Linked DNA regions of Homo sapiens: all the other regions are linked to region 3. Evidence: fine-mapped expression QTL. A gene starts in region 3. Each other region holds a variant in brackets. All regions are shown on one strand. Distances are from middle to middle. Region 1 holds the start of LINC02000 (long intergenic non-protein coding RNA 2000). Region 2 overlaps SLCO2A1 (solute carrier organic anion transporter family member 2A1). Region 3 holds the start of SLCO2A1 (solute carrier organic anion transporter family member 2A1).

The links. PIP is the estimated chance that this variant, and not a neighbour inherited with it, causes the effect.
Region 1: its variant is the best candidate, but not a certain one, in a credible set for the expression of SLCO2A1 in tibial nerve (GTEx, PIP 0.50).
Region 2: its variant is the best candidate, but not a certain one, in a credible set for the expression of SLCO2A1 in tibial nerve (GTEx, PIP 0.88).

What each region holds. Positions count from the first base shown.
Region 1 is chr3:134,055,675-134,063,852 of GRCh38, reverse strand. LINC02000 (long intergenic non-protein coding RNA 2000) reads left to right here and starts at 6,205. Exons shown (of 2, transcript NR_135574.1): 1 at 6,205-6,443. RefSeq lists an enhancer at 6,957-7,763. The variant G/TG (reference allele first, on the strand shown) is at 3,331.
Region 2 is chr3:133,949,695-133,957,872 of GRCh38, reverse strand. It overlaps SLCO2A1 (solute carrier organic anion transporter family member 2A1), which reads left to right. Exons shown (of 14, transcript NM_005630.3): 4 at 2,680-2,907; 5 at 4,112-4,210; 6 at 6,529-6,665. Among named protein-coding and RNA genes, the nearest start is that of C3orf36, 24 kb to the right of the region's middle. RefSeq lists enhancers at 1,189-1,718, 1,719-2,250, 7,784-8,178. The variant C/T (reference allele first, on the strand shown) is at 3,611.
Region 3 is chr3:134,025,098-134,033,275 of GRCh38, reverse strand. SLCO2A1 (solute carrier organic anion transporter family member 2A1) reads left to right here and starts at 3,351. Exons shown (of 14, transcript NM_005630.3): 1 at 3,351-3,569. The coding sequence starts at 3,474. RefSeq lists an enhancer at 2,856-3,356.

The DNA of each region.
Region 1 (8,178 bases), 31 kb before region 3:
TCTTTCTTTCTTTCTTTCTTTCTTTCTTTCTTTCTTTCTTTCTTTCTTTTTTTCTTTCACAGGGTCTCGCTCTGTCACCCAGGCTGGAGTGCAGTGGTACGATCTCAGCTCACTGAAATCTCCATCTCCTGGGTTCAAGTGATCTCTGCTTCAGCCTCCTGAGTAGCTGGGACCACAGGCACACACCACGACACCTGGCTAATTTTTGTATTTTCAGTAGAGACAGGGTTTCGCCATGTTGGTCAGGCCGATCTTGAACTTCTGGCCTCAAGCGATCCACCTGCCTCGGCCTCCCAAAGTGCTAGGATTACAGGCATGAGCCACCACGCCTGGCTGAAGTCATTTTTCAAGTACACTGAGAAACCAAGCTGGAGTTGATGCAGGAATGCAGGTTGCTGGACTCCTAATCCACTACTTAAATGTCACCTTCTCCTTGAGGACTTCCTGACCACCCTGTATCATATTGCAACTTTCCCTCACCCCCAGTATTTCTGATCACCCCTGCCTTGCACCTGTATTCTCCATAGCACTTTTCACTTTCTAATATGTAACATAATTTACTCATATTTATTATTTGTCTCCTCCTGGTAGAATATAAGCTCCCCAAGGCTAGGGACCAGTGTGTGTTTTGTAAACTGATTGATCCTAAGCGTCTGGAGTAGCCTTCAACAGTGCTTAGCATAAAGCTATCTTTAACAGATACTTATTGAATTAATAAATTTATCAGAGACCACTACCCTGCAAAGAACAAGGGATTCTAACTTACTCTTATCTGAGTTCAGTTTACCCCTCCAGCACTAACTAGGTGCTTTATTTTACCTCCTTATGTTCCCACTTTCTCATCCACAAATATGATTTCACTGGACTACTATGAGACATAATGCAGATGAAGTGCCTAGAAGAGTGCCTGGCCTACAGCAGTGGACTCGGGCTAACATCAGAGAGCAGCAACTTTATTTAACAAATAAATGTTGTGGTAAAGCTCTGGCAAATTAAACAGGACAAGCAGAGTGTCACCATACCTGATTTGGATGGGAAGCTCTCAGATGAAATATTTTCTTCCCTCCTTGAGGGGGAATGTTCTGGTCCAGACCCAGTGAGTTTGAAAGAGCTCTGCAGGAGGAGTGAGGAGGCTGGGTGCTACAGTCTGACTGTGTCCGCAAGATTCATGTGTTGGAAGCATAATCCTCAAAGCAGCTGTGTTGAGAGGCAGGACCTTTAAGAGATTAAGTCATGATGGTGAATGGATTAATGCTGATTATTACTGTTTTGGGTTCCTGATAAAAAGGATGAATTCAGCCAATTTCCTTTCTCTGTCTCACATGCCCACTTCCACCTTCTGCCCTTCTGCCATGGGATGCCCCTCACCAGATGCTGGCATCATGCTCTTAGACTTCCCAGCCTCCAGAACTGTAAGAAATAAATTTCTTTTCTTTATGAATTACCCAGCCTGGTACTCTGTTATAGCAAGAGATAACAGACTGAGATACCACGTCTCAGCTCAGCTCTCTCACTTCCTGGCAGTGGGGCTCAAGGCCACATACTTTACCTCTCAGGAACTCTTTCTTCTCATCTGTGAAATGGGACAAGAATGTCTTCTCTGCTGACTTCAGAAGGGTCAGAGAGATTAAAGGAGAAATCACAAGTGCAAATGCTTCGTGAGCAGTATAGGACTGTGCCTTTATGGGTGAAATGGCTTCGGTTGGCGGCAGGGCTGCAAAGCTGCTCATTTGGGATAAGATGCTTTCTGCTCTAGGTAGATGTTACAGGCCAAATTGTGTTCCCCCGAAATGCATACATTGAAGTCCTCACCTGCAGTACACCTTAGAAGGTGACCATATTTGAAGACAGGATCTTTACAGAGGTAATTAAGTTAAAATGAGGTCATTAGGGTGGGCTCTAATCCAATATAGCTGGTGTCCTTATAAGAAGAGGAATTTTGGACACAGACACATTCAGAAGGAAGATAACATGAAGAAATAGGAAGAAAGTGATCATCGACCAGTCAAAGAGGGAGGGCTCAAAAGAAACGGATCCTGCCAACACCCCGATCTTGGACTTCCAGCCTCCAGAACCGTGAGACAGAAATTTCTTTTTGAAGCCATGCAGTTGGAGGTACTTCATTATGGCAGCCCTGGGAAACTAAGACAGTACGCCTGGACAGAATGCAACAGATGTCAGCACGCCCAGAGAACCACGCTGCTCACTTCTCTCCCACTCAGACCCTTCTGCATACACATTTGCTTCAAACATCCAACCCCTGCCATCCAGCCCCTGCCTCCCTGGTCCTGGAGATTTCCAGCTAGGTCTCTCAGCCTGAAAGATCTGGTAGCTCAAAACGAGTCCCCATAGCACCTTAGGCTGTCCCTAAGCAGGGACCCTCAGGAACACACCACGTTGCACAAGCAGGAGCTTTCTGGAAGGGCCTTGGTCGCATTGATTGAGAGGAAAAGTTTAGCCTCTTCTCTCCTTTTCATCATTGGCAGAAGAGAGAAGAAGGCTGAATTCCCTGAATATGGCTGGGTAGGCACCCAGGGCCCAGGGCCCAAACTCCCTCGTCCTTCCTCACACTCTGGATGTCCTGTATGGACACGCTGGCTTCCTTGGGTTGGGAGATCTGCTTGTGTCAAGTGATCACCTCTGAGCCACAGATGCTCAGATCACCCGTGTGAGGGCAAAGGGCTCCGGGAGGCTGCTGGCCAGGGCCAGACTCGCTTCTCCACTTAGGGATCATCTCTCTGCTGCAGCCACTCAGCCCTAGATCCTCCTGTCCTGAGCTGAGTTTTGATTTAGTCATGAGATGGGGTGTTGTTCTCTTGCCTTCCCGAGAATCACCCGACCCCAGCTTCCTTTCACACAGGGAGCCCTTTAAACAGCTTTGGTCAACAATATAGGCTAAAGGTCAGGAGAACAAGACCGACATGTCAACACTGTGAATATCAACCCTCTTGGGAGAGTTTCCAAGTCAAGTAATGAAGTAGAAATCACGGACAACCTTGGTAGAAGGGATCTTATTTCTTCTGCAAAGTAAGGGGAAAAATATAAACAAAACAAGGTTTTTCTCAGTAAAATAAGGCCACCCACATACACTCCCCTTAAAAATCTAGGTTTGCCTCGAGTAACTGTGGGTTTTGGTCTATTGTCATGTTACTGTCAAGCTGCAGCACATGGTCAGAGGCAATCTCCTTACTTGACTGGGTCCTGATTTAGGAAAAAGGGAGGACCCAGGCTGCCTAAAATCCAGAGTCAACATTTCCCAGCTCTTCTCTCCTTTCCTGTGTATCTGGCAGCCCCACATGGACACACCCTGGGGCCATGGGGAGAGGGGTT[G/TG]AATTCCAGCCTCACAGCCTTGCTCTCAATTGCCTCCCACATATAAGAAAACAAAAGGTCAGCCACCCAAGCTCAGTCAGCATGGAAGGGATGAGCCCAAAAGGAGCTGATGATCCTGGAAAAGCATTCATTCCCCAGTAGCTGCTGGTTTTGGGTGTTTCAGGTCCACAGGGAATCCTTTTTGACATAGGATGGCGCTCAGAGTTCAGACTTTAGCTTGGGTGTGAATGTTCAGTCCTGGTCAAGTCTTCTCAGTGAGTGTTTTGGACCTTTGCTCCCTCCTCCGTGCCTCTCCCAACCGCCCTAAATATGGATGTTTTCTAACACAAGCTGAACAATGCTCAGACGTCAAGGTCGGTGGCCTCTAATCTATTTGTGCAAAGGATCAAATGAAAATGGGCTTTTCCTGACAGTTCCAAGACTGGATTAGCAGCCTGTGTTTGTGGGTGTTGTGGGGCTGGAGCGACCAGAGACATCCATCTTCTGTCCTCTATCAGTGGAGGCAGCTCCAGGGTAGGGAGGCAACAAAGGAGCTGGCCCGGAGCCCACATGTCTGAGGAGTCCCTGGAAGACCCCCAGGGCAGATGGTTCTCAGCAGCCTGCCTGGAAGCACCTGGGAGAAGGGAGCCACATCTGCTGGGACCTGCCTGCATTTGCAGCTTCCACCATGAAGTCGAAGTTCCCTGGAGCCCATTGCCAGGGACTTTTCCTTCTCATTGTTGCCTCCACATTAAAATGAGGGCAAATAACCAAGCAGGAATGTATTTTTAAAAGACGTTTAGGGAATTTCCTGGTTGTCACCACAAAATAGCTCTCCATACCTCCTACTTTTGTGGCCTGATCCAGTTGGAATTCAGAATGATATCCTGGGAGTCATACAATCCGGACCAATTTTAAAAAGTTCAATTATGTGTACTAGATAAATCTTACAAAGTCAGGAATATAAGAAACATGTTCAGTAAAGATTTCCAATAACAGTATTTGAAAGCACATCAGACATTCTGTGGTCTGTAGATGTCTGTTCCACCCACAGGGGTCCTATATGGGCTGTGACCTGCTGCCCAGATGGCAGCTGACTGTCCCACCCAAAGGCAGCCATTAGCTGGTGAGGCAGCCCCAGGCACGTGGGTTTAGCTAGGCAAGTGTTTACTTTCCTTTGCCTCAGAGTGGTTCTACATGTGCTGAAATCCAACTGACCTTGAAGGGCTTCTCAGGGAGTTTTGAACTGGGGACACGCAGAGTGAGAAGCAGAGAAGGAGAGTGGGAAGCAGAGAGAGACACAGAGGGAAGCCGTGTCATAAGAATGACAGATCCCCCAGGGCAGGAGCCATGGATGCCAGCATCTGGGCAGTAGCAAAATAGAGGGTCTCCTCTGCAGAGTGGTTTTCCTGGGGTACATTGATGGGCTCCTGACAGCTAGGTTTGCACCCTAGCCCTGAACTTACTAGCTGTGGGACTTGGGCAAGTTACAAACCTCTCTCTCTAAGCCGTAACGTCCTCCTCCTCAAATCGGGATGCTGATGACAACCTGTTCCAAGAGACTGTTGCCAGCATCCAGCATAAAGCACACAGAGTATCTGGGGCCATGCCTAGCACTCAGGAAGAGGAAATGCTCAACAATTGCCAGCTATCTTCATTGTTAAGGCTGCCTTTGAATGAATCCTAAACCCTATGTCCTAACTGCACTGATAGTGTCCTGCCCATCTGTCTGTCCTTTCTCCTTTACAATAAACATTCGTGACTCAAAGTAACTGGAGTGTGCCTGTGTTTATCGCAGCTTGGAAGAGCCTCTCTAGCATGGAAATGAAAACTTTCTCAATACCAGAGAGCCCAGGTAGCCACTCTGCATTTAAACCCACATGGGAAAAGCAGCCAGCAAATGGTTGGCTTGAGCTTTGAAGGGCCTGGATCTCAAGTGCCCTTTGGGTCAGTGCAAACTGGACAAAATGCAGTTATGGGGCACTGCTCTGCTGCCCAACGGAGACGTGGTGGAGGCCATTTCCAGACTGGAGGGGAGGGAGAAGCTGGTGTTCTTGTCCAGAGGACACATAGCCAGCTGTGCAGCTGCACAGCTGACTGTGTGTCTATGAACTGGGCAACTGGGCATGTGTGTGGACAGGAAAAGGTGTACATGCAAGAGTGCGCTATGTCCCGTGGCCATGGGCGCCTGTGTGTTTGTGCCAGGAGAGATGCTACGCAGGCAGGGCTGGGGGGAAAGCATGTTTATGTGTGTCTGTGTGGGCTTGTACCTAGGGAGAGCTGTGTGTGTGTGTGTGTGTGTGTGTGTGTGTGTGTGTGTGTGTGTGGTGTCGGAGAGCTGTGGGTGAGGGTGTCTCTAGCTGTGTGCACCTGAGAATGGATGCATGTATGCAGGTGTGTTTGATCCTGTTCATGGCCACGCATGTCCAAGTGTGTATGTGATTCTGCCTGTGGCTCGTGTGCGCAGCCACTCTCTTTACCTTCAGCAGCTCAGCTGGCCTTCATGTAGAATGGGCGGGGCAGGCCACCAGGGTCACCTGGCTGACAGGGCTCTAATGATAGCCTTTGGGGCCTGCTGTGTTCCAGGAACCAGAGCCATTCAGGAACAGCTGATGAGACTAGGAATGAGGAAGTCGCAAAGGTTCCTCTGGGTTTCCATTTCAAGGGGCACAAATTGACCTTTGCCTCCTCGGCCACTTAGGCTTGCTGCTTGCTCCTTGTCCCTTCCCCCAGGGAGGGAGGAGAAGCAGTTTCACTTTTCTTGCCAGTTATTTTCACTTTCAGACTCCCTGAGAAAGGTGAGGCAGGACTGGTGTGATGTGTGCCCGAGTCTCAGGCACTATCGTGAGGGTGCAGGGCCAAGGCAGGTGATCCTGCATGGAGACATTCTAGGTTCAGGGACTGCCTGTGGATCCATGCCAATTGCTGTGATCAGCCAGCCCATCCAGGAGAGAAGCTGTGACTTCCCCAAGCACACCAAGCTGTAACTCTCTGGGTCCTGTCATTTGGGCTGATGAGAAAGCAGCTTCCGAGGAGAGACATGATTCATCCAAAGAGACGATTCATGTGAGAGCCAGCTTTCAGGCCAAGTATTGATGGGAGACATCTGGCTGATTGGCCAACAGCAGGTAGAGGTAGGAGCTAAATTTCCATCCTACATAATAACAGCCTATGCCAGACAGCATAGCTCCCAGCACCTCTGTCCACCCAGAGATGCCTTCCTGGCCCTCCCTGGCCACTTCATTCCTGCCCTCACTGTCCCTTCATGCCTGGTCAGGTGCCAGGCAGGCCCCAGCCAACTGGACAGGCCCCAACCACTTCCAATTGGGCTCCAATCATCTGACAGGCTTCTCCCAGGGTAATCAACCCCTGCTTCTCAGCCTGAGACTTCAACCCTTCAGACAGGCCCTGCCTGCTCCCTGTAGGGTCCCTCCTGCAAAGGCCATGGCAGCAGACCCAGCTTTCCCCTGGGTTATGGATCCCCAGCTCCCCCTGCTCCCAAGTCTGAGTGTGCCTGGACCCTGCTGCACACTCATAATGGACTCTGCATGCTCCAGAGTGCCAACACCACACACACATACACACACACACGCTCTCTCGCTCTCTTTCTCTCTCTCACACACACTCTCAAACACATACACTCGCACACTCACTCACACTCTCATACACACACTCACATGCTCACACTCGTTTTCTCTGTCTCTCACACACATACTTTCACTCTCTCAAACACACACGCTCACTCGCACTCACATACACTCTCTCGTTCTCTCTCTCACACACACCCCCACACACCCACTCACACACTCACATTCTCACACATGCTCACACACACATGCACTCTCACACTCTCCCACCTTTTATAGGTGCTGTGCAGCCTCAGGCCTTCCCCTCCCCCGCTGACTGCCCTGTCTCATGGCCATTGTAAACTGTTCAGTTCTGCCTGAAGCTTGCCCTGCTGGCTGCCCCAGGCCGCCCTCCTGGGCCACTATCTGCGTTTCCAGCCTGTGTTAACAAGATGCATCCTGGTGGGTTCTTGACATTCTTCCAGTTAGAATGAGTATGTTCTGCATTTCAGATAAAACAATGATAGTCTTTCCCAATTCACAGGAGAAATCAAGTTAATAGTAAGAATTCTCTCTCTTTGAGTCCTTCTATTAAATGTTTCACATCTGCAGCCTCAAACCAAGAAACAATCACACATTTGATATAAAGCACCTAGACTCAGTTTACCAACCTTAATCTTTACATTAAATTTGGCTGGTGTTTACTTTTATCCAACTGAAATGCTTCGTGTGTCTGAAATGAAATGCCAGCATGATGACATCTCACTTGTGGAATGAATTAACTGGGCCCCAGATTTAGCAAGTGAAAATATACAAGACACTCAGCTCAACATAATAAATAATACTAGATAAACAATAAATAATTTTTTAATCATAAGTATATCCCAAGTATGGAATATTTGCTAAGTATGGAATCCTTATGCTAAGAAATGGTTGTTTATCTAAAATTCAAATTGAACCAGGCATCAACGTTTGACCTGGTGGTCCTAACCTAGTGCTTACACCCGCTGGCATGAGCCATCACACATCATAGGCTCTGCAAGGAACTTGCAACCCCCATAGCAAAGAGCTGAGTTTGTCAATGGTCTACACTAGAGTGTGGCCTAGGGCTTCTCCTGGCAGTAACCCCGCTGTCTCAGGTTTTAGAGAGTGGGATTACCTCTGGTCAACCCCACTGATACCCAGCCCTCAGGCCCCCGGCGGTCATTGCACGGCCTTATAGGACAGTTTCTAGCTGGATGGTACTGTGAGCTCACACTTCCATAGCCGCTTGTGTTTTTCTTTCTCTTCTTGGCCCATGAAT
Region 2 (8,178 bases), 75 kb after region 3:
TCTAGCCACCTTATGGCCTCTACGCCAAGGGAAACTAAGGCTCAGAGACATTTAGAAACTTGCTCAAGAATACATAGGGATAAAACCAATTTTTATCTTACCTAGGGATAAAGCCAATTTCTTAACTCCCTGTACTGTGTTTATTTCATCTTATTGTCCCAGATTCTAGCACACATCCCAGCAGCCAGCCCCTTTCCTGAGAGGAAGTAGGTGTAAGGTCCCAGCCACCTACAGAGGTCAGAGAGCTCATATGTCTGAAGGTGGCTAGGGATGGAGGAAATCTTCCCATGCCATGTTCTTCCATCCCTGAAAAATGTGTGTTCTGTCTTTTCAAGCTGCCATCAGACTTGATTTCAGTTTGGACTTTGAGTCAGACACATGCAGGTTCGGATCCCAGCTCTACCCCCAAACCAGCTACTTAGGTATGGTCTTATGTAGTCTCCTGCTCACAGTAACCCCTGTGAGCAGGAGACCACATACATCACAACCTTGGCACAGGGCCTGGCCCTGTCAGTACATGGGTGTTTGACATTTCTGGTGCTAGGACTTGGATCTCTACGGTAGAGCCTGTAAATCAGAGAGAGGCCCAACACTCCACGGGGGAGAGGTGGTGGTGGGCTCTGGTGGGACTTAGGCTCACCTAGCTCAGGGCAGCACAAGTGAGAATTAAACTGAATCCCATCAGTGTTAAGTGAGCAAGATCGGTGACGTCAGCGATGGGTTGTGGTTGGTGGGGATGGGCAGAGACTCAGCTCCACTGTTGCAGGCCTAGAGCCTAGAGCAGAAAGAAGGGCAATGGGAATGGGACAAAGAAGAAATGGGAGAGACGTTGTTAAGCTTTGGATATATTTATTTACAAAAACCTTGAATTTAAAAACTTTGTTGCTTTATTTCAAAAGTATTTCTTTTAACACAAAAGAAATGTGTTCATTCCAGACAAATTACAAAATAAATGAGGCAAATAAAAAAAGATCAGCACAATCTCATCACCCAGAGAGAGCCATCATCTTCCAGAGGTTTTCTCTGCATATTCAAGTAGTCCACAAACGTTTTATAAATTAGGGAACATATTCTTCTCCAAGCTACTAGTTACTATTTTTTTATTCTAACAAGCTGTTCCAGCTGTCTTTCTGTGTAAAAAAAAGGCTATATTTTCACCCCAATTCTAAAAGGTTGCATATTATATCACCATGTGGTCGGGCCACTCTATTTGAATTCTGCATTGAAAGGCAGGATAATGAACATGGAGTGGGAAGAGGGAGGTACAGAGGGACCCTGACTACAGTCCCTGGCTGCTTGCCAGGATGCTTCCTTCCACGGACACAACTATTGAAGGTCTAGATGACCCTGACCAAACAGACGCCTTGGCTTCCTTTCCTTTTCCTGGGACAGGCTTCCCTGACTGATGGGGGAGCTCCCATGACAGCAACTTTCTAATGTGTCCTGCATAGACACCACTGGAGAGGGCAGACAACAGTGGGGCCAGGCTGGACGAGGCGTGTGCGACTGGGGAGAGGGGAAAGGGCAATGAAGAGCACAGACCCCTCTCCCCAGCCCCACCATCCAGGGCAGCCCTGAGCCCAACAGCACCGGCAGAGTCCAGTGTGAGGAGCAGGGCTAGTCTACGGCGCTCGGTTTTCCTCTCTGTGGGACTTAGGCTCACCTAGCTCAGGGCAGCACAAGTGAGAATTAAACGGAATCCCATTAGTGTTAAGCGAGTGAGATTGGTGACGTCAGTGGTTTCCATTAGCCTGAATGAGACAGGGAAAGGGGATCTCATGGAAAGGAGCCCTCGAGAACCCCTAAGGCCTTGGAGAGCTGCCAATGCTGATTGCTTAGTGTGGGCCAAATTAAAAACAGAGGCATGGAAGCGGCAGCCCAGCCTGGCAAGGGCCACAGCCACAGGAACCATAGTGCCCACAGGCCTCACCCAGGGTGTCTGGGACCCTCACAGAAGGGCTTCGAGAAGCAGCCTCAGCTTCCCCATCTGTAATATGAGAGGCTGAACGAGAGGGTCTTAAAGCCCCTCCAGCATCAGAAGTTCTGGGAGCTTCCCCGGAACGGTAAGGATATTAAATGTCTTTGGCAGTAGGTCTTCCAGTGTGACTTGGAGCTGGGCTCACTAAGAAGCAAAGGCCCTGGGAGTCACAACCAGGGACTCAACCCACGTTGTAGGTGACACCAACCCGGTGCAACAGCATGACCTCTGTCCTGCTGAAGAGAACCCTGGGGGCCCAGAGCCCCAGGGCTGAGCACAGGGTGCTGGAGGCCGACGGGCCTGGGCTTTGACCCTGGACCCCCTCCCCCTTTTCCAGCTGGGTGCCCCTTTCCTCCACAGATGAAGGTACTGACTTCTCCGTGCTCAGCTCCCCACCAGTGCCCATGGAGGAGAAGGCATGGACACTCACGAGAGGAAGATTCCTCTCCACCTGAGAAATAGCAGCTCCTGGGGCCGGGGAGCCCACATTCCACCTCTCTTTCACACCTTTGTTTCTAGAGTCCCTCCTGCTGGCCAGACAGAAGGACGCGGTCCTCAGGAACCATGTCCCATTTGCTAGCACAGCCTCTGGCCAAAGTTGGTCCTTCCCCAAGGGGCCTGGGAGAAAGGCCGGGTTTGGAGGCCAGCCGGTGGAACCAGGAGACCAGGGTGGTGGAGACCAGCAAGCACTCTCGTTGCAGGGAACAACAGCCGCTTGCAGGCCGAGCTCTGCCAGAAGCATTGGCAGGACCTGCCTCCCAGTAAGTGCCACAGCACCACCCAGAACCCCCAGAAGGAGACCAGCAGCATGTGGGGCCTGATGGTGGTTGCCCAGCTGCTGGCTGGCATCGGGACAGTGCCTATTCAGCCATTTGGGATCTCCTATGTGGATGACTTCTCAGAGCCCAGCAACTCGCCCCTGTACATCTGTGAGTCACCGGCTTGAAGAGGGCTTTGGGGAGGGGTGAGGTCCTGATGTAGCACTTGATGAGGCCCTGGGGCACTAAACTGAGGTCCCACCCTCTTTGCTTACAACCCAGCAAATGAGTTCAGAGGCCTGGGGATCCGACAGACTTGGTTTGAATGTCAGCTCCATTACCTCCCAGCTGTGTGATCTGAGGCAAATGGCTGAACCCCAGGGCCCCAGGTTTCTCACCTCCAGGAGGAGGCTGATATTATCTGTGCGCTGGATGGCTGTGGGATACATGAGATGGCATATGTAACCACTTAGCTGGTGTTGGGCACTGGATGGACCCTAAACCAACAGCACCTACTGTTGCTCTCTGACTAGTCCTTCAGGCACAGGCCAGGACACACATATCTTCTCTGAGACATCCACTTAGGAGCAGGTTGGCCTCAAAGAAGCCCATGCAAAGCAGATAGCAGATGACCACGTGAATGCCCAAATCCTTCCCTTCGAACAAGCCACTTTGGGACGGGCGTGGTGGCTCATGCCTGTAATCCCAGCACTTTGGGAGGCCAAGGCAGGCGGATCACCTGAGGCCGGGAGTTCGAGACCAGCCTGATCAACATGGAGAAACCCCGTCTCTATTAAAAATAAAAAATTAGCTGGGCATGGTGGCGCATACCTGTGGTCCCAGCTACTTGGGATGCTGAGGCAGGAGAATCACT[C/T]GAACCCAGGAGGCAGAGGTTGCAGTGAGCCAAGATTGCACCATTGCTCTCCAGCATGGGCAACAAGAGTGAAACTCCATCTAAAAAAAAAAAAAAAAAAAAAAAAAAAGAACACACCACTTTGAGCATCCTCAGGGCCTATACTCCAGACCACACAGACCACCCCCACAGGCTCTGTGGCACCATGAGCTCCTCCGAGGGCCCCCAGCATCGTACCCACAGGGAGCATCACCTGGCATTTTTAAATGCCTTGGAGCCTGTTTCCTTCCTGGCAAGCAGGTCTCTTTGGAAGTTGGCTGGAGGAAGAAATAGCCTTGGTTCTATATGTCTTGGAATCTTGAGTGGTTCTGGCCTTGCTGGTGGGAGATGCCACAGGTGTGGGCTTATCAGGCTTGGGAACAGATGAAGTGATATCTCAAGACTCCCCCTCAGCTTGGGAGCCCAAGGCTGCCAAACTCTCTCCATTTATCTCAGTCTCCTTCCCCTTACTTCCTTTTCCAGCCATCTTATTTGCCATCTCTGTATTTGGACCGGCTTTCGGGTACCTGCTGGGCTCTGTCATGCTGCAGATCTTTGTGGACTATGGCAGGGTCAACACAGGTGAGTATGTGCAGAGGACACCCATTCCCATCCCCAGCTCAATAAAGCAGCCCCCAGCCCCCTCATCCAATCAGAACAGAGAATGAAGCTTCAGCTCCAGATGCGCTCTGCCACCTCCTCACTCGCTCACTCATCCCTGCAGTCCCTCGGAGAGCCAGGAGCAGACAGTGTGTGCCTCCTCTCTCAGGGCCCACGCTGGCCACTGTGAGGAACAAGCTGCTGAAGCAAACTCACTTTCTGCCCTTAAGAAGTTTGGAGACCCAGGGCAGGACCTCAGGTGTTGCCACCACAGCGCCCATCTTGGTGGCATTAAAAATATTTCTATGGGCTGGGTGCGGTGGCTCAAGCCTGTAATCCCAGCACTTTGGGAGGCTGAGGCGGGTGGATCACGAGGTCAGGAGATCAAGACCACCCTGGCTAACACGGTGAAACCCCGTCTCTACTAAAAATACAAAAAAATTAGCCGGGCGTGGTGGCAGATGCCTGTAGTCCCAGCTACTTAGGAGGCTGAGGCAGAAGAATGGCGTGAACCTGGGAGGCAGAGCTTGCAGTGAGCCGAGATCATGCCACTGCACTCCAGCCTGGGCGACAGAGTGAGACTCTGTCTGAAAGAAAAAAAAAAAATTCTATGGTTCTTTGATTCTAAGATGTTGCTGGTTCTTTAAGATTTAATAAGAGCTCTTTTGAGGAAAAAAAAGAAACATCATATAAAATATACACACGGATGATGACTCACATCCAGAGGGTATAACATGGTGTTTGACTGTGTGGGCGCTGGGACGGGACTGCCTGGGTCTCATCCTGGCTCCATCTCTTACTAGCCAAGTGATCTTAGGCAAGTAACTTTGTCTTTCTGTGCCTCAGCTTCCTCATCTGTAAAATGGAGCTAATGATAGTAAAATAAAGTTGTTTTAAAGATCAGAACAAGCCTAATGTATATTAAGAAGTCAACAGTATGAGTTCGTATTCTTCAACAAGTGGTATGGATGAGAATATATAGTCCCTAGACACCAGCATAAGTTCTGAGTTAACCATTCAGGGAGCCAGCCCCAGGATGAATGGAGCAAGGGCTTCCTGCCTTTGAGAGTGTGTCCCACACTACCCAGTCTCCCACAAGATGGGGAAGGTCAGCACCACAACAGAGGGACAGGCAAAGTGCTGTAGGGTGGAGAATGTGGGGAGTGTGTGGGTGGGATACGAAGTTCCAGCTCGGCTGAAGGGGTGGCTGAAAGGCAGGACTGAGCCAGACTCCAGGAAGAGCACTCCCACCACTGCCCTGCAAACAAGTCACGTCACAGATATCTGGCAGGTGCTAGTTGCAACCATGCTGCTAGAGCCTAGACTCCCGTCCCTAAGACTGTCAGACCACAGTGCCATCTGCATGGTGTCATTTGGCTGTACTTCCAATGAAAGTAGAAAGCCAGGGGGTGTCTTATGCCTCAGGATCAAGCCATCCCTGTCCTTTTGCTGGCACTCCCCGAATTGGTTCCTGGCTCTTGGTTGCCCAAAGAGACCAGCAACTGAGTGCCCAGTCCACTCAGGGCAGTGCCCAGGGAAGCTTGTCATGATTTGACTGAACCGTTCTGCCACCTTCTCCTTCCCTTTATGCCCGGATAGTTTCTTTACACAGAGAAACACAATGGCAGACTTTTACACGTGTGCAAGAGAATTGCCAAGAGAAAGCTGCTCCTTTGGAAGCCAGGCAGTTCACACAGTTGATGGTTGTTTCTTTAGGCTTCTAAGGATTATGGGGCCTCCTTTGTTAGGGATCCATAAAGTTGGGAGGCAGTAGTTTAATGGTTAAGAGGGCAGGTTTGCATACCAGGGAGACACAGGCTTGAAATTGACCAATGAAATGGCACTTACTAGCCTTTACCTGAGGCAAGGGACTTAACCCCTTCTATCCTCAGTTTCTTGACTGGTGAGAGGTGGGCAGACTTGCTAGAGAACCCAGTGGAAAACAGATGGAAAGCACGTGGTCTAGAGTCTGGCCCATGGTGTGCCCTTGTGAGTGAGAGTCAGCTCCCTTCTTCACTACTTCTGCCAAGGGCTGGGAGTTGAATAAGGAGGTGAAGGTACTGCTCCCTCCTGCCCGGGGATTTTCTGATGCTGTGCTTCATGTGCAGTGGCCTTGGTCCTCTGGGAAGACCAATAGCTGGGAGAGGGAATGTTGTTTTGACCAAGAATCTAGCTCATGGCTTGCCTCTTCTGCATCCTGGGAAGAAAATCAGTGAAACTCCCCCTGATCAGAGGTTCTGTTTCCAGTAAGGTGAGATCATGCATTCAACAAACATTTGCACTCTTCGTTTTCTCTTCAGCTGCAGTTAACTTGGTCCCGGGTGACCCCCGATGGATTGGAGCCTGGTGGCTAGGCCTGCTCATTTCTTCAGCTTTATTGGTTCTCACCTCTTTCCCCTTTTTTTTCTTCCCTCGAGCAATGCCCATAGGAGCAAAGGTAAGGTTCCAAGAGCCCATGACTCTACCTGATGGAGTTGAAGAAAGGGATGTGGGGGTAGAAAATAAATAGAGCTAAAAAGCTGCAGCATGTTAAGCAAATTCAGGGTGAAATCTAAACAAATTTCATGATGCAGGACTTCCCAGAGGCTTTAAGAGGTGAGGGTGTTGGTGAATTTCCAAAAGGTGGTATCTCCTATGTGTTCCCGTACCATGTTAGCATGTCAAGGATCAGGAGACCTCCAGGGAACAGTTTGGGAAACACTGAGCTTATCTAAATTGAGCTAAAGAATTAAGAGCCAATAAAGGCCAAGTCTGCGACCTGGTACAGTCAACTTTTACATTTAATAGGGCCTATCAGTGTTCAGTGTTTGAACCTGAAAAACTGAGTAGGAAGGGATTCCTAGCATTGAACAGTGTTGAGGGTGGCTGAAATTGGAGCATATTTTGAGCAGAGGACCTTCCAAGCATCTTCCAGTCACGCCTGCTGGGGAAAGGAATCAGGGAAGGATGAGAACGGAGAGCAAGGAAGAGAAGTCTGGGTAGGGGCTTGATGTTCAGCTGAAGGGTCTAAAGATTGTTCTAATTCCATGAAGTTCTAGAGCACTGCAGTGACTGGGTGGCCACTTGGGTGGCAATATGGCAGCTAGGTTGAGTTTAGGGGGTAGGGAAGGAATGGAGGCTGGAGATCTGAAGAGGCCAGTGCAGAGACCAGGTGAGAGATGGGGAATGCAGCAATGGTTGTCGGAGAGCTGGGACAGGGCAAAGATAAGGATAGACATTCCTAGGGTGGATGCCCAGAAGGACTCAGCAGTGAGCTGGCTTGGAGGAGAAGAAGGAGCTAAAGTTTATGCCTAGGCTTCAAGTCCCAAAATAGAGCTCAATGTTTGACAATGAGGTATATAAAATCTAGGCCCAGCCGGGGGGAGAGGGGCAGGGGTGGGAGGACCTCAGCTTGTCTTGGGGAAGAATTTCAGACGTTGGCTACACATCATGCAGGTGCTGGGGTCAGGCAGACCTGGGTTTGAATGAAGCTCTGCTACTTATAAACCAGCTGAGTTGGCCAGGTGTATAATCTCACACTTTAGGAGGCCAAGGCAGGAGGATTGCTTGAGCCCAGGTTGAGATTGGTGGGTAGGGAAGGAATGAAGTTCAAGACCACCCTGGGCAACATAGCGAGACCCCATCTCTAAAAAAAAAATTATTTTAAAAACTTAGCTCAGCATGGTGTTGAGTGCATGTAGTCCCACCTACTTGGGAGGCTGAGGTGGGAGAATCACTTGAGCCCAGGAGTTCGAGGCTGCAGTGAGCTATGACTGCACCACTGCACACCAGCTTGGGTGACAGAGTGAGACCCTGTCTCTAAAAAAATAAAAATAAAAAATAAAAAACAATGAACTAGCTGAGTGAGCTTCGCCAAGTTTCTTTGTTCCTAAGCTTCCTCTTCTTTACAGTGCTCCAGCTAATTAGAGTAGCAGTATGGGAAAGCGTTGTGAGGAATGAGACAAAGCATA
Region 3 (8,178 bases):
TGACATTTCTTAAGCTTTTCTCTCCTTCCTACCACCATCCCACTGCTGCCATGCCAGCTTTTATCATAGCTCCTGGGATTCCTTCCACAGACTACCTAATTCCACTCTGGCTGCCAGAGAGGTCCATGTGAAATGCAAATTAGCCCAGGTCACCCTTGGTTAGAAGCCTTTAACGGCTCCCCATTGTGCTGGGGAGAAAACCTAAACTCCCAGCCTCTTTGCTTCACACACACATACCCACTGCGCTTGGTCTTGAGCTCCAGCCAGACTGAAACCATGGAGTAGGTTTACCCTCTTTACCCTAATCCTCTCAATCCTACTAGTTCTTAGGGCTCAGCTTGACAGTCGCCTCCTCCTAGAAGTCTTCCTGCTGTCCAAGGTGCATTAGGGCTCCACTTCTATGCTCCCATAGCAGCTGTGCACAATAGCTTTCTTCCTACATCACAGCCACACTTTCTCTTCTTGTTTCCCACCCTGAGACCATAGAGTCTTTGAGGTCAGGAGATGTTCTTGTGGTTTAGCTTTTTTTAAAATTTATTTATTTATTTATTTATTTATTTATTTATTTATTTATTTATTTGAGACAGAGTCTTGCTCTGTAGCCCAGGCTGGAGTGCACTGGCACGACCTTGGCTCACTGCAGCCTCTGCCTCCCAGGTTCAAGCAATTCTCCTGCTTCAGCCTCCCAAGCAGCTGGGACTACAGACACCTGCCACCATGCCTGGCTAATTTTGTATTTTTAGTAGAGAAGGGGTTTCACCATGTTGGCCGGGATGGTCTCAATCTCCTGACCTCAAGTGATCCGCCCGCCTCAGCCTCCTCAAGTGCTGGGATTAGAGGCATGAGCCACCGTGCCCAGCCTATTTTTTGTATTTTTTCAGTGCTAGGAAATATTTACTGAAATTTAAGGATGGAAAGTCTGGGAGACCGACTCTAGGAGTGCTCTTGAAAGGAAATGGGTTACTCCATGTGTAGGTGTTGAAAATGTAAAACACAATATTATTTCTCCCTTTTTCCCTAATAAAACCCCAATTTTGTTCAGAGGACAGCAATAGTGTTAATTACACTTCTTAGCATCCTTTGCAGGGGGTAGCTATGTGACCCAGGTTTGGCCAAGAAGACTTAAGTAAAAGCAACTGTGCACGCAAGGGAGAGATTTGCTCCCTTGATGTAAGCATGGCCCCTTCCTGTTTCCTGTCTTCCACATCTTTCCTGGAATTAGGAGAGGAGGCTGGAGATGGAGCAGCCATCTTGTGACAATGAGCCAGCCACAGGGATGGGAACCACAGGCTAAGGAATCTTGAAGGGCCTAGGTCATGACCCCTGGACTACCTACTAGCAGACTTCTAATTATTGAGAGACAAATAAATCTCATTTAAGTCATTTTGGTTGGCTCTCCATTACATTTAGCTGAACTCCACCCAGTAAAGGTCAATGAAGGAAGATAAGCATCTGTGAGCATTTCTGAATAGGCTTTTCCTTTGGAGATGATGCTGGCGCTGACGGGAGGCAGAGGGCCAGGTTAATGGAACAGGACTAGGTGAGGGCTGGAGAGGCTGATCCTCCCAGGGGTTCTACCAGAGGATCACAGTGAGGCCTCAGGGTTTGAGAAAGAAGCTCCAGGCATGGTAGCCCTAAGGTGTCTGTGACCTTGGCCTGGGGGTTTTCTGGTCCCTGTTTGGTTCAACTTGCAAAATGGGGCTGTTGGACTAGACAACTTATCAGAAGGCATAGTGCTTCAAGTCTGGGCTTAGGAGTCAGACAAGGCTGAATTCAGGGTCCAGCTCCACCACTTGCTAGCTGTGTGGCTTTCAGACAGCTTTCTTAGCCGACTGCTCTAGCATCCTTGTTTGTGGAGTCCAGACTCCATCAGTACCTATACCTGTAGGGCTAACGTTGGGGCTTCATGAAATCATGCATGTGGGTGCTCAGCAGAGGGCCTGGTATGCCCAGCACACACCAAGTGCTCCATGCTGGTACCTGTCCTTGTGTGCCATGTTCTCCCAGTGGACAGATGGGACCTGGAATTCATGCCTCCTCTGGGGCTGGGGCTGGGGCTGCTACAGTGCTGTGGAAAGCCTGTCAGGATGTACCTCGCTCTGTGGCTGAGTGAAGAGGCCAGAGGCTGCCCACTGTTCAACATCTTTGGAATGCTGCCGTGTCCAGGGAACTTGGGTCGCAGGTGGATAGAAGCCCCCAAGCCCAGGCCAGGCCAGACCAGGCCCAGAAAGGTATCAGGTCTTGGGTAGAATAAGAAGCCTATGTGGTCTATCTATCCTGTGGCCTTTGTCTTAGCCAAAGCCTCCTGGATATTGACGGCATCTTTTCCTGGGTTTGGGGTGGGCTTGGAGAGGTTCCCTCTGCACGGGACTACAGAAGTGAGGGAGCTGGAAAAATGCCTCCAGAGCTGGATTCCTCACTGCAGCTGCTTTTGGAAGAACCTTCTTATCCTTCCCTTGAGAAGCCTCACTGTCTCTTCTCGGCGCTTGGAATCCTGTTAGTAGAAAATCTTGGGGAAAAAATAAACCCACTATTCATTCCAGCACTGAGAAGGAGGTCAGTGGGGTGCGTCCTGTTTGTCCACACCCCCCCCACCCCCTCTACCCCTCCCCCCAGCACCCCAGGCCAGACCCAGCCATGCTGACACTTGACAGCCCCTGCAGTTTACCTTGGCTCAGGTCCAGAGACTTCGGGCCCAGCCCCCACCTTTTCACCTTGTTACCCAGCCCCCTCTCCAGCGCAAAGAGCAGTTTAAATATAAATCAGTCCTCAACACAAACAGAGCTGCAGCGAGTCTCAGAGCCATCACCGGAACTGAGGGCCCAGGTTTTCTGCGAGTGCAAACAAGCAGAGACTGGCTCCGTAAATCTCCCCAAGAACGTCGGGAGGGGTGCTGGGGCTCCCCTCCACCCCCGGCTCACGTTGGCCCCTCCAGCGCCCGCCTCGGGCACCCTCATATCCCAGCCTTCCTGCCCCCCAGCCCTGCCAACCTCTTTCTCCATCCCCTCCACTCACCCACCTTCGCTTCGCCCACCCTCTCTTCGCCAGTCCCCAGGAACCTCCACCCCCTTGCAACCTCCTGCCCCCGCACAGCCCTCACCTCCCCTCCCCGGGCCCGCCACCTCCTTCCCTCCCTCTCCGCCTCCCGGCAGGCGGGATCTTCTCGGGGCAGTCAAGCCTCGCGGGTCGCTGCGGCGTCACACCTGTCTGAGGGGGCGGCGGCGGCGGCGGCGGCGGGGCGGGGGCTCGTAGCGCCTTTGACACCCGAGGAAAAGAGGGAGGAGGGAGAGCGCGTTTCATCATCGGCGGCGGCCACTTATAAAAACTTCTAGGCGCGCACTCGCTGGCTCAGTCTCCGCTCCGCGAATCTCCTCCGGCCACTGCCGCCGCGGTCGCCTCTCACCCGCCCGGCCGCTCCAGCCCGAGGCGCCCCGACCCCGCGCCACTCCGCGCCCGGCCAGCCGCCCGCAGCCATGGGGCTCCTGCCCAAGCTCGGCGCGTCCCAGGGCAGCGACACCTCTACTAGCCGAGCCGGCCGCTGTGCCCGCTCGGTCTTCGGCAACATTAAGGTGAGCGGAGTCCGCGGGGTCTTCCGGGCCGGAGCCGCGCCTGGCGCACCTTCGGCTGGGCACCCGCTTCTGTCTGCCGGAGCCAGGAGGCTCCGGGAGCCCCGGGCTCCCTCCTGTGCCGCGCTCCGATCTCATCCCCGGGCGACGCGTGCTGGGCGTGTGTGTGCGAGTGTGTGTGTGAGCGTGTGTGTGTGTGAGCGTGTGTGTGTGCGTGCGAGTGTGTGTGTGTGTGTTCACACGCCTTCATCGGACTAAGTAATGGGACAGTGGAAGTACCTGCTTACCGCTTACTCGGACAACTCCAGGCAGAGTTATAAGCGAGAGAATTGTCCTCGATGATTGAAAAAGATCATCTCGAGGAACGCTTTTTCGGCCTCCAGCGGGCGGTTACTTCGTCAATGGGATGGGCTTGGAGGTGCCAGGGGGACCCCCCGCGCTTTGGGGGACAGACTGTGTCTCGTCCGAGCCCCCTCGTCCTGGGGTGGGTGGCCTAAGGGATGTTCTCCTTCCCCAGGCTTTCTTCTCCCGCCAACGGGGGCGGGGGGCTCTGCTACCTGGCTGTGCCGCTCGCAGTTATGTTTAGAATTCCCTCTCAGCGGGCGGCTTCCCCAGGCTGGCAACCAACCCGCGTGCTCAGATTGGCTTCCCTGGTCTGGAAATGGCCCCAGGAAGGTCACAGCTCTCACGGTTCAGTAAGGTCTAAGCAGGTCCACTCACCAGGCAAGTTATGGGGAGCGGGTGAGAAGATAGGGTGTTGGCAGCTGTTAGGATGAGAGCACCTTTCCCATGGGGTCGGAAATGCTTTCCACTCCCTCACAGGTCCAGGAGGACCTGGAATGGTTCAATCCGCACTCGGGCTCTTTTGCCCGTTCTGCCTAGGCAGAAGTAACAATGGAAGATACCTCCTGAGAGGCCAAAGCTGCTGCGGTGAGGATGTGGGAGACTGCAGAGACTGCATCAAGGCCCCTTCTGGTCAGGGTGGGATCATGGTGTAGAGAGGTTGTTTCCCACAAACATACAGTCAGATGGGACTGAGTAAAGCCTCCGGTGGTGCAATTAAGGGGAAGCCAGATTACACAAAGGGATGATGGGGGTGTCCGTGGACTGGTTATATGTGTCCAACAGAAAGGGATCTGGAGGTCAGAGTGGATCTCACCTGCATACTTACTCAGCTGGGATCTCCACTCCTGCTTCTGCTCTTTCCGCACCGCAATAAATACAGGCTGAATTGATTTTGTAGTTGTATATGGATAAGCAACAGAAATTTTGAGATAGCTTAAAATAATCTCCAAATCTCCTCATTTTTGGCCAGACCTGGATGGAAATGTTGTGCGCAGTTTTGGTTCCACCATTTTGGAGAAATTTCATCAGGAATTTTGGAACCTTTGGTATTTATAAATTAGGAATTGAGATGAAAGGGTAGGGACTAGGATTAGATGGTGTAAAGAAAGGGGCCTCTGCAGGAACCAGGGTGGGGCAACCTCACTTCATTTTCACCAAGAAGGGCAGGAGGGACGGGTGTCCAGAACAGATTCCTGACAGTGAGGGTACAGCTGAATGAGACTGATCCGTTTAGACCCACCCTGGTTCCCTAAAATAAATGTTTATGGCAGCAATTTATTTGGAGATCTATATAAATAAGATGATTTCTCATGTGTTGATGATTTAACCACACGTACCTGAGGGCTGGGCTCAGGCCAATTGGCCTCCTAAAGGAGTTAAGTACTCATACTGGCTAAGAGTTTTTCTTGACTCTAAAAATGAGATTCTGTTAGTCATCACCTCCTTTGATCCATACTAATTGCAAGACCAGAGTTTGGAGGACTTCCATTTAACTCCACTTATCAGCCTGAAACCAGGTACGAGGTTGGATAGCTTAAGGTAAATCTTGAATCTCAAATTCCATCAGTTAAAGTCACTTGCACCTTTCCCTCCTGGGGCAATAACTGGGAGCTCTGCTATTTGAAGGGATATTTCCTCCCAATGAGAGTGCTTGTAATAGCCCTGCCACTTTGCAGTGGGGGATGGGTTGCACATATCTTGGGACATGTATGACATGGTGGTGTAGCAGGACGAGCCACAGACAAAACTCCTCAGACACTGAGTTAAAGAAGGAAGGGGTTTATTCAGCCGGGGGCATCAGCAAGACTGCTGTCTCAAGAGCTGAGCTCCCCGAGTGAGCAATTCCTGTCCTTTTTAAGGGCTCACAACTCTAAGGGGGTGCACCTGAGAGGGTCGTGATCGATTGAGCAAACAGTGGGTACGTGACTGGGGGCTGCATGCACCAGTAATTAGATCGGAACAAAACAGAATAGGGATTTTCACAGTGCTTTTCTGTACAATGTCTGTAATCTATAGATAACATAACCGATTAGGTCAGGGGTCGATCTTTAACTACCAGCGCTAGGGTGCGGCTCCGGGCTGTCTGCTTGTGGATTTCATTTCTGCCTTTTAGTTTTTACTTTTTCTTTCTTTGGAGGCAGAAATTGGGCATAAGACAATATGAGGGGTGGTCTCCTCCCTTATTCCCCTCCTTTGAGATTCTCACTCAATAGTGGGAGTTCTCACTTTCATTTTTACTACCTGTGTCTTCTTGCAAGACAGATCGATAGTGATTCATATAGTACACTTGTGCTGAACCTTTTTGGTGAACTAAGGTAGCGATGAAGCTTTTTATCATTTGAAGAAGTATAGGTAGCAAACAAGGGAGCAGTAAGCAGGTTCCTATTACTATTATAACTCTTATTATTAGAGTTTTAAATTCTCTTAGCGCTGGGAACCATTTTCTAAACATGGCCCCAGGATCAAATCCATGCCACACTTGCACAGGCACATGTGCCAGTTTTGTCATATCTCTTAACTGTGTCTTCAACTACTTGCCCTTGATTATCTATATGTAGGCAGCAATTAGAAAGGTTAAATTTCCTACAGACCTCTCCTTCAGCTGCTAGCAAGTAGTCAAGAGCTAATCTATTTTGATAGGTAGCATTTCTCATCTGAGTTTCTTGCTGGGCCAGAATAGTCAAGGCTCTGCCGGTTTTATTAGTGATTATTTTTAAGACAGCTTGTAACCGTATGATTCAGTTGATCACGTAAATGGGGGTCTGGTATCCTCACAAGCCGTCTTGTGCCTAGCAGGCCTATAATATTGTATGATTTTCTCAGGGGGCCATTTATCATTTTTTCAATTTCCTATAGCTATGCTTCTCTTTTCGCGGGAAGCATAGACAGGGAAGCCCAGGAGTTCGCCTGTTTTTATGGGCAGTAGGAAAAAGATGGTTTAATAGTGCCAATAACAAAACTACCTGCCTACTGGTCAGGTAATTTGGCGTAAGCTCTATGCCTACGTATCTAGTATAATCCAGTGGGGGCTGTCTAGTCCCGGTGGGACTCCGGGTGGGTCCACACGGTTTGCAACTTTGGGAATTTACTAAATGGATTTCTCTCTGTGTGATTAGAACTCCACCAAATGACTGTTTTTGTGATACCATTATAAGTTTCTGTCCTAGACAAAGAAGTCGTCCTATGGGGTGAGTAAATTCTTTTCCTTCTCTAGCTATGCAATATTGTCCAATAATTGAGGCTTTTAGGACCTAGAAATTATCAGGGTGATTCTTCTGAGCTGGGAATTCATCAGGAACTGGGTCTGTAGGTACTAATTCTCGGGCTTCCCATGGTCATTGATCTCTTATTACAGTTCCTCCACATACATAACATGAAGTGACATTGAGAGAACATGCTCAGCTAATTGCAAAAACAAATTTCTTGTTTTTCCTGGAATTTCTGGTACTGGCACATTTAGTTCATCATAGAAAGTTTGAAACACTGGCTTAGGAGAGCGTTTGTAAACTTCTCTTCAAACCAAGATATTTACTCGAGGATCCAGTCCAGCCCCATTGATTCCTAAGGTCACACGCTCCTCTTTTTTCCAGCGAGGATCAAGGGGATTGGTTATTACTAGCTCTAAGGGGTTACATTGTCCCTTAGTACAGGAAGGGCCATTTTTTCCTTTCTGAAGGTGGACTGGATCTTTTTCATTTTTTTTTTATCGAAGTGGCCTAAATGACACAAGACCAGTATTTACATTTCTTTCCACACAGTCTTAATTTATGACAGATGTACTTATTTTCTGCTATATAGCCTCTTTTCTAATTAAGAGAACCACAGCTTATTCCTAACTTATTACTATTAATGACAGCACAGGCATCAAATTTTAAGATGACTCGTTTGGGCACCCCTTTTTCTTCTGTTTTGGCTAGCACTTTACTCATATCATTTGTGAGCCCTCACCAGTCCTCAGTCCTCAATCTAATTTTAAAAACTGTGGTCATGGGAGGCTCAGATGGGTCATAACACACATCAGGTTGGTCATTTCCTGGGCTACATACCTTGTATAGAATTATATTATACAACAAGTTCTTTTTAGAGTTCCAGTACGCTTATAATAACCATAAAATAATAGGACCGTAGCAACCTTTTGTCCTACCTCAGTGACTTGATGTATACACTGGGAATAGTCCTCAGTCTGAGGAAGGTCAGTTGAAGTCCTTATTGTAAAAATGCAAATTTTAAGGAAAATGAGTCCCGCAATGAGTTTTCTCATGCTTCG